3 separate regions of the Homo sapiens genome follow, and regions 1 and 2 are each reported to be linked to region 3. The links are microRNA targets in miRTarBase. Many come from high-throughput screens and were not tested one by one. Region 3 holds a microRNA gene; each other region holds the end of a gene's coding sequence.

Region 1 (3,353 bases), not on the chromosome of region 3:
TCACGGTGCTACCCTGAAGCTAGCCGACGTGTTGCCTTTGCCTTTGCTTCATAAACTCCCTCCCATGTTGGTGTTTTCTGTAACTTCAGAAAAGGCCATTGGATGGAGACAACGTGTGCGTGTCTACAGGAAGCAGAGCCCTAGACCTTGGTATTCAACAGTAAGCAGCGCTCATGGGATTCATCTGGAAATGGAATAGTTAAAACCTTTTTTTTTTTTTGAGAGCAAGAAGGCTTAATATAAAATCCTGGGGCCGGCCTGGTGGCTCATGCCTATAATCCCAGCACGCTGGGAGGCCAAGGTGGGTGGATCACCTGAGGTCAGGAGTTCGAGACCAGCCTGACCAACATGGTGAGACTCCATTTCTACTAAATAGAATTAGCCAGGTGTGGTGGCGCGTGCCTGTAATCCCAGCTACTTGGGAGGCTGAGGCAGGAGAATCGCTTGAACCAGGAGGTGGAGGTTGCAGTAAGCTGCCATTGCACTCCAGCCTGGGCAACAGAGTGAAACTCCATCTCGAAAAAAAAATTTTTTAAATAAAAAAAAACTTCTGATATCCTTGCACTTGAATAGAGTGCACCTGAATTCCAAAATCAAATAAAAAAGAACAATTAAAAACTTCTCATCAGTGTCTGAAATTCTGACACATAATATCCTCTTGGAATTCTTAAATATGTCTCAGCCTCTTTTTACCACATGGCAAAGAGCAGTAAAACTTCAAGTAAAACATTAAAGTGAACATCTGTCCCATCTGTCCCAAAAGACTAACAGTGATGCCTGACTTTGGGGACAGAAACTTGGTAGTATTCACATGTTTTGAAACTCCAGGTGCTTTTTTTACAATGATTAAAACTGGAATATAATTTTTAAAAACAAAGCAGGTTGGAAAAGTCATTTTAAAGTCACTTGATAATTCCTGGAACACCTAAGAAGTTTGTAATGCGCATTTTAAAGTGAAATTCCTAATGTCGTTTTCTAATCTCTCTCTCTAAAAAAGAAGAAAAAAAAATCCTATAATTTTGGTTTTTATACAGGTTTTTACTAAAAAAGAAAAAAATCCTATAATTTTGGTTTTCATATAGGTTTTTACTAAAAAAGAAAAAATCCTATAATTTTGGTTTTTATATAGGTTTTTACTAAAAAAGAAAAAAATCCTATAATTTTGGTTTTGATACCGGTTTTTACTAAAAAAGAAAAAATCCTATAATTTTGGTTTTTATATAGGTTTTTACTCACCAGTGGCTCTATTACCCCCGAAATATTTAATGTTTAAGGATTAACAAGAGGCTACGGAAGGAAGCTTGCCCATTTCCGTCTCCATGACAGAAGCCAAGCTTTCGTAACAGCCTTTTACATGTCTTTGGAGAAAAGTGAATCATATTAAACTGTCAAGAACACTTCACCCCAATGATGACTGCTCTTTGACCAGCATGTCTACTGGAAGTGGCACATTCAGAAGTGAGATCTGTGAATGAACTGAAATAGAAAGGCAACTGATGAGGAAAGCGACTGGAATGATATTAGGGATATTCAAATGGTGTGCCAGGTTTGTGATGTTTTCCACCAAAACAAACCCAAACAAGGGCACCCCAACCTGTGTCCAAGAGGACTGTTCACAGCAAAATTCTGAAGCGCTCATAGAAGGAATGTCCTGCGAGTTTGGCCCATTTGTTATTAAACTTCCATTCCTAAGACTGACACCTGAGACACAAAATAATTTCCTCTATTGCCCTAAAAAGACTTTGTTTTGGCTACTGGCAGCACTTGGCAAAATCCATGTATGTGTTTGGTTACTGTGTTCTACGAGCGGTCACGTATGGCTCCTGACTTCATCTGACAGGCCCGCTGTGCTCTTGTTTAGCAAGTATGACAGGCAGGAAAAAAAACCCTGGATGTCAACTGCTCCACTAGCATTATTAGAGCTTTTAACACGATAGAGAAAAATGTAAAAACCATGTGAGAATATATATATCTTCCACTTGCAAGTAGGCTCAAAGTAAACTTAGAAAAGTGTTCTGCATACTATGCATAGGATATAGTTAGTGTTCAAGTTCTATGGCTAATATCAAAGGTAGATGACTTCCTACATCTGTCGTAGCGTCTCCATTCTTATCAAAATTTCTCTATTAATCCAAAATCCTGCCTATGTTCCACTTCCCTGTACTCAGGGCCAGCTGCATTTTTTATTCCAAGCAGCAGATGAAGAGAGGTGACCCATCCTTTCCATTCACAGTGACAGCACAGGGGGGCACCTCCTTTTTGTGACATGGTCCAGGCATGGACCCAAAACAACACTTGTTAGTGTAGAATAGGTAAACTAAGTCCCTCAAACCTGCCCTCCACAATCTATTAGAGCATATTATTTCACTTATAATGTTAATCTCCTTCTAATATTGAACCCTAACCCTTAGCTATGAGCACAGCCCAAGCTCTGCAGCTGTCAAGTCTCATTTAGCATCTGGTGGCAAGTTGGGCTTTTTTGTCCTCTCTGGGAGAAGCCTCCTGGCTGGAGACTCAGATTTTGTTTTCCCTTTAAATGACGAGATGGTTGGAAGAAACCCAGCAAGACAAGCGGGGCATCTGGACATCCGGCGGACACACTGGCTGCGTCCTGGTGAGGGTAGTTAACATGGGTGCACGTCTTCTGGCTTGGAGGTGATGACCTCAGGCCCTACGTGCAGGGCTCCACGGGGGCACCGTTCATGGTGTTCTTGTTTCTGTGCCTGGAGAGCAGCTTCTTGTTCAGGATCCTGGTGAGGGTGATGCCTTTCCTCCGGGAACCCTCTGGCTGCTCCAGGAACACAAGGTCATTGTGTGACTGACTCATGCCTGGGTCTTTCTGTTGATGCCGCCGGCGGAAGAACAGCTTTGCACCTTTCCTTAGAATTCCTCCTGGAAGAGGGAGGCACAAGGGCTGGTCAAGTGGGCAGGGAATGAGGGGCTGAATGACTGGTCCAATCGGACAAAGGGAAAAGGAGGCTCGAATGCCTCTAACGAAGGGCCAGTTTACTACTTCAATATGCTGTCACTACCTGCATGAGAAAAATAACTGGAATCTGGCTTGTACAAAACGAGAGTTTTCAAGATGAAAAGGAAACGAGATTATAACAGTAGAAGCAGTAAGCCTGAACTATCGCTTGATATCCCTTTCTAAGGCCGATATTTATATTCCTGAATTTTTTTTCTTTTTTTTTTTTGAGACAGAGTCTTGCTGTCTGTCGCCCAGGCTGGACTGCAGTGGCGCGATCTTGGCTCACTGCAACCTCCACCTCCAGGTTCAAGCGATTCTCCTGCCTCAGCCTCCCAAATAGCTGGGATTACAGGTGTGTGCCACCATGCCTAGCTAATTTTTT
Region 2 (3,000 bases), not on the chromosome of region 3:
GATAGTACTTTATGATTAGAGCATACAGAGAGAGTTACAATTAAGCTTTTCTTTTTTCTTTTACAGGTTAATGACTCCAGAGAGTAAGATCAGATTCGTCCACAAAGAGATGGGCATAATACCAAGCTGGGGTGGCACCACCCGGCTAGTTGAAATAATCGGAAGTAGACAAGCTCTCAAAGTGTTGAGTGGGGCCCTTAAACTGGATTCAAAAAATGCTCTAAACATAGGAATGGTTGAAGAGGTCTTGCAGTCTTCAGATGAAACTAAATCTCTAGAAGAGGCACAAGAATGGCTAAAGCAATTCATCCAAGGGCCACCGGAAGTAATTAGAGCTTTGAAAAAATCTGTTTGTTCAGGCAGAGAGCTATATTTGGAGGAAGCATTACAGAACGAAAGAGATCTTTTAGGAACAGTTTGGGGTGGGCCTGCAAATTTAGAGGCTATTGCTAAGAAAGGAAAATTTAATAAATAATTGGTTTTTCGTGTGGATGTACTCCAAGTAAAGCTCCAGTGACTAATATGTATAAATGTTAAATGATATTAAATATGAACATCAGAATTACTTTGAAGGCTACTATTAATATGCAGACTTACTTTTAATCATTTGAATATCTGAACTCATTTACCTCATTTCTTGCCAATTACTCACTTGGGTATTTACTGCGTAATCTGGAACATTTAGCTAAAATATACACTTTTGGCTTAAAAATTATTGCTGTCAATTCCAATAATAATTCTTAGCTTATAACCAAAGAGCAGTGTTTAAAAGGAGAGCTTCTATACAAAACCTATTCCTGGCGTTACTTTTCATACAATTTTTGTTCTGTTTTACCTGGAAATAATTTACCAAAATAACTGAGTGTTGCTGCTAAAGAACAAAAGTGGGGAGGTATCAGGGAACAAGAAAACAAGAAAGGGTATGATCAATCATTTTCTTCTGCTCCAAACAGCTGGAGTAAAATTCATGGGAAATGGCCCTTCATTTAAAAAAAGATGTACCTCACTACCCACTACAAATTTGGAACTTTGTTCTTTTCAATAATTAGTTTTCTATTGTAAATTACCTACTAAACAGTGGTAGCCATGACATGGAAAGTCAACTGATTCTACAATTGGACATTCATTTGTGTGCCCTGGAATTTCCAACTAGTAATAAACAACTACTGTTGATGTAGTTTTAAACCACTTGAAGGGACTCATGAAGCATCCTGCAACATAAATTTGCATTTTTACATCAGATTTCTTTTTTTTCCTGAAAAACAACTAACCTTCTAACAACTATCTTTCAAAAGTAAATGTAATAAAAATGCACAACATAAAATGTTTATGATCCCAGCAATACACTTTTTAAAAAATGTGAAAGTCAAAGAATTAAGTTCTAGTTCTGACTCATCACAAGAGGTCAAAAGTATTTGCTACTGTAACATTCAATTCACATTTGAGAATCATGGTAAAAATAACTTGCATTTGCCTTACCATCATGATCCTACTGTTGAGTTAGGAAAATATGGTTAGACAGACTCACATTACTTTTTTTCAGAGGTAAACTCTAGATTACTGTGTCAACCCAATACTATTTGGCCATAGATGTAAAAACTACCAAATAAAAGTGGATTTTGTGGTCTACAACATTTTGTGTAAAGTGAATTCATGTCTGCTAACACCGTTAAGTCTGCCATTTAATCCAGAGTGTTAGACTACTAATGAATATGGTAAGGAAAATATAAAATATTAACGGTATATGCTATTTGAGGAATTTTAAGTCTCACAGGCTTTAGTTTTATTTCCATACATGTTTATTATATACACACTGCCTATAGATTCTGTTTAAATAATCTCTAAGAAAAAAATCAAACTTTTCTGAGCAGGTGATTAAGCTGAAAACAACCAATTAAAACCACCACTTTTTAAGTGACCTTTGGTCACAAATGTCAAAATGTTTCCACACCCTTTCCACCCTCAAACAAGAGACAAACTGTTTTTGATAAACTCTAGTATTTATTAAATTATAAATTTTGTAATCAAAAAGAAAAATGCAGACCAAAAAAACCTCAAACTATAAGACTAGACAGCAAAGCCTATGGGAACACCATGAAGTGTGTTACAAACATTCTGAAACATAAGTTACTGGCTGTTTTCATTTCCATTTCAATAACTTTACTATAAAATAGTTGTTATTCATCTATTTTGAAATCCCAAATTCACATCTATTCATACATTAAATTATGTTTCCTGTTCATAATATCAAACATCTCACAGGTGCCAAATTTTAGTAATGGTCTTATGCCAATCCATGCAGAAAAATAAGACACAATGCAGGAGTCAGATGAGGACCATTAATGCACAGATAATACAAACACACTGGCCAAAAGAACTACAGAAGTTTTTAAAAAGTATAAAGTAAACAGACCTCAAGAAAACTGGGTTATTACTAAACAGCTCTCAACTATTAACACCCAAGTTCCTTACATTAAATAAATTTCTCAACAGAGACATGTTAGACATTTTAATTATGAGTCTATCCTTCCCATACCCCTTCCCACCCCAACTCCCAAAATGCACTACTAGGGATGAGTATAATGTTATGTGGGCAGAAATTTACAGGTAACCCTTTCAACCTTGAGCATGGAGCTGAAGACATTTTTATTTAAACTTCAGTTACTGTGCACTGTCCATCAGGCCTTCTAGATCTGACACTGACACTCACTGTTCCACCCCCTGCTACTGATCGATCAGTTCCCGATCGATCTGATCGATCGGGTACTGTCTGGTTTGCATTAGAAACCAAAAGTCTCTGTTGGGTCAAGGAGTGCTGTGCAACAACTGCAGATACATCCTCACTATCACTACTGGCATCTGATTCAGTTTCTTCAATGGAGGTGTCTGGTGCTGGTACCCTGCCTGAAGATGGTGATTCATGATCTTCTTCTCCTTCTCCCCTATGACTCCTTTCAGCTGTGTTGTCTCCACTGAGTTGTAAATGAGCAAAAGAGTCTT
Region 3 (3,353 bases):
TACCAAGTTTGCCTTAACTTTTCACTGCACTCATTTTTATCCTCATGGCTAAAATAGCTGTATTTGCTCCACAATCAAAATTAAAGGAGGGTGAGCTGATCGTTAGGAGGCTATAGTTGATCTGGCAAGAATTTCCATCTTTCTGTTCATAACGTTAAGTTGGGGGGTTGCTGGGAAGGGAAACAGAGAGAGTGTTCCCTTGGAGGGACTTTTCCAACTTTCATTGGTTTGAATCACCAACATATATTTTATTTTTAAGGAAGTATCATATTCATTGCAGAACCACCTCTAAATATTTTACTCCTGGCCATACCGTATTCTTTTCTATTGAAACATCTTTTTTGCCTCTCTGAGATCAGCTATGGCTTGGGGATTGCTAAGAACAAAATTCAAAGTTGCTTGTTTTTTGTTTTTTTTTTTCTTAAATCCACACTTCTTTGGGGGTTAGCGGGGGTGGGGAGGGAACAGCAACTGCTTAATGAAGTTTCTCACACAGAGGCAAAAAGAGAAAAGCCAAAATATATTCAGTGTATCCAGCAGTTCCATGCTGAATTTTTTTTTTCCTTATTGGTTGAGGGGGGTGTGTAGGAGGGTGGTGGGAAGGATCTGAAAAGAAGCTGTGATTCTTTGCTGAATTAATGATGACTTCTCACTGCAAAATGCTGATTTATAATCTCTTCACCATACTAGACTGTTTCCAGACTCAGAGGGGGGTTAAAGTTTGTTAAATGTATTCATAATTACATGCACAGTTTCAGACGGCTGAATATAAGTAATGCTTGTGCTGTTGCGAATGCTCACCATTAAAGCAGAAATTGTTTCACATTTAGCACTAAATTCTGTCTGATTTTGCACACTTAACAATTCAGTAATTTTAACATTCGGCTTCGTCGCCTCCATTATAGCTCAGTATCTTGGAGAAACAGTCAGTGTTCCGGCCTCGTTAATTCATGTAAAACACCCTATTTGTAGAAGTATCATTAAAGGCTAATTTGATGAGATATCCTTATTTAGCAAAGCAAATAGGATTTGACAGTCAGCTCCGGGTGGCGATTTAGCAAAGCACAAACACAATTCACAACGTGACAATTTCCCATCCACGCGCCTCGCTGGAATTGTGGACTCCTGAAAATTGTGCTGTTTCATCGTGTCCCATACTAAAGAGAAAGAACTCTGGAAGTAAAGAACTGTTTTTGCCAAGGCAGCACAAATGTCATCTGTGTGTACATGTGCCATGTCTTTCAAATCCTAAATCTTGTATCAAGAACGCTGTGTTCAAAGGTTTTTTCCAGGTACAGCTCACTTTTCTATTCCCTGCTATGTAGACTTAATTTAAATCTAGACTTGCAAATAACTTAGGATGTGTGAAAGTCTATATAGGTTACAACTATATAGGGTGTGTGTGTGTGTGTGTGTACACACAACTGAAGGTTAATGTTCTGCGACGGGGATTTATACACACTACCCTTGCTTTAGAGACTTCCCCTGAACGTATTATCCAGCCTTCTATAAAACGCCTGGCTGGGTGCAGTGGCTCATGCCTGTAATCCCAGCACTTTGGGAGGCTGAGGTGGGCGGATCACGAGGTCAGGAGATCGAGACCATCCTGGCTAACACGGTGAAACCCCGTCTCTACTAAAAATACAAAAAAATTAGCCGGGCGTGGTGGCGGGCGCCTGTAATCCCAGCTACTCGGGAGGCTGAGGCAGGAGAATCGCCTGAACCCGGGAAGCAGAGGTTGCAGTGAGCCAAGATCGCGCCACTGCACTCCAGCCTGGTCAGAGCCTGGACAGAGCGAGATTCTGTCCCCAAAAAACAAACAAACAAACAAACAAAACAAAACAGAACAAAAAGAACGCCTTCAACAGCAAAGAGTTGCAAAGAAATGTTGCAATTCCAGGTGGAAGCAAACAGCTGGTTTCTCCTAATTTAGCAAACGTAAAGACAAATCTAATGTCGTTACAATTCATCATTTCAGGAGCGCCTTATTTGGGGGCTTCAAACACTTTGCCACAATTGACATCCTACTAATTCCTTTCCAATCCAATACTGTCCCTTAAACCACTGTGGGGGTGGTCAGGGGGAATGTACTTTCTCCTCCTTGTATCGTTTTTCGGCCTCCCAAGGAGAGAAGCCCTTGGAAAACACAGTAGGTTCGGCAAACTGAGAACACACACTTATAAGAATACCGCCCTCGAAGGGACCTTTTAGTTTTATGGAAAGTAGCAAACCTCCCCCTCTTTCCCCGCCCCCCCGCCAGCCGGGTTTTGGACGCGCTCCCTGGGGGTGGTAGCTCTCTGCCCTCACCCTCCCGAGACTGCCGGGGCCTGAGTCCCTCGCTGTCCAGAATGACCCCAAAAGCGGGACTTTGAGGGCCAGTTGGATAAAACATAAACTCATCTCGCCCTCAAAACCCCGATTCTGAGACCACAGCCTCCAAAAGCCTCTTTTCCCAAGAAGTGAGTCCCCATTCACGGCTGACAGCACCGGGGCAGGCCGCCTTTGAGGCAAGAGTTTGGAGAACCGGGATCACTGAAGGAATCGTTACTGGGTGTTCCCTCAGGGCGGCGGTTCATCTCACCAAAATGCCAGGGGGTCGCTGTGGGAGGAGGGGACATTTGCCACACCATGGCTGAGGGCAAGAGGATCGCTTGATCCCGGGGTGTCTCTTCCCTCCCGGAGCAATCACCAATCTCGCCCAGCAAACAGGCCTAAAAGCTTCCCGGACAACACGAGGGGTGCCCCAAACGTCCCTTAGCAGCGGATAAATCGGGTGTCCGAGGTGCCTCGTACAGTTCCCCCCACCCCATCTCCAGCTAAATAAAGTTTGGTTATTTGTGTCCTTAATCGTCTCTCATTAAAGTCAAATTTGCTGCGCGCCCAAGTTGGGGGAAATGATTTCCATTTTAATAGCTTAATTAGCCTCTAGGTTCTGGAAAGGCCACTCCCCCACGCACCTTTTCTCCTCATTTTAACCCCCCTCCCTTTTTCACAACTTCTCCTAAAAATAAATTATAAATATGGATGTGTCCTCAGAGGACATAAGCGGCGCATTCCAACGCTCCGCTTGGTGGGGATTGGAAGCAAAGAGAAACCAGAAACGCCACTCCCCCCACCCCCAAATCAAAATGCCTTTTTCTTTTTTTTTCTAACTTCTTTTTCCTAACTTGGTGTTGTCTCGGGCACAGACACCCCGCTCCGCACCCCGGAACCTAGTTTTTTTGCCCCCGTCCTGCAGAAGCTAAAGCCAACGCGCCAGGGCTGCCTGCTTCTCGGGGGGAGGGAGCTGACAACTTTAGGGGGCGGCGGTAACTCTCTGGGGACGGTGGTTCCCGGCTAGTCCGGGATCCCCG

Evidence for each region. Region 3 holds the annotated microRNA hsa-miR-193b-3p (AACUGGCCCUCAAAGUCCCGCU, at 2,360-2,381, opposite strand). A microRNA usually pairs through its seed, bases 2 to 8, with sites in the 3' UTR of a target mRNA and lowers its output. Matches are read on the target gene's strand: a 7mer-m8 pairs with bases 2 to 8, a 7mer-A1 pairs with bases 2 to 7 and ends in A, and an 8mer does both.
Region 1: the mRNA of C2CD2 is a reported target of hsa-miR-193b-3p. Seed matches in the 3' UTR shown: 7mer-A1 at 1,753-1,759.
Region 2: the mRNA of RNF146 is a reported target of hsa-miR-193b-3p. Seed matches in the 3' UTR shown: 7mer-m8 at 2,364-2,370 and 7mer-A1 at 2,129-2,135.

The regions. Positions count from the first base shown.
Region 1 is chr21:41,886,453-41,889,805 of GRCh38, forward strand. It overlaps C2CD2 (C2 calcium dependent domain containing 2), which reads right to left. Exons shown (of 14, transcript NM_015500.2): 14 at 1-2,892. The coding sequence ends at 2,672. Among named protein-coding and RNA genes, the nearest start is that of PRDM15, 8.8 kb to the left of the region's middle.
Region 2 is chr6:127,287,344-127,290,343 of GRCh38, reverse strand. RNF146 (ring finger protein 146) reads right to left here. Exons shown (of 3, transcript NM_001242850.2): 3 at 1,782-3,000. The coding sequence ends at 2,651. It overlaps ECHDC1 (ethylmalonyl-CoA decarboxylase 1), which reads left to right. Exons shown (of 6, transcript NM_001002030.2): 6 at 67-1,632. The coding sequence ends at 475. Among named protein-coding and RNA genes, the nearest start is that of RNF146, 22 kb to the right of the region's middle.
Region 3 is chr16:14,303,045-14,306,397 of GRCh38, reverse strand. It overlaps MIR193B (microRNA 193b), which reads right to left and starts at 2,431; the gene lies at 2,349-2,431. All of the region lies in intron 1 of MIR193BHG (MIR193b-365a host gene), which reads right to left. RefSeq lists silencers at 2,291-2,340, 3,294-3,353.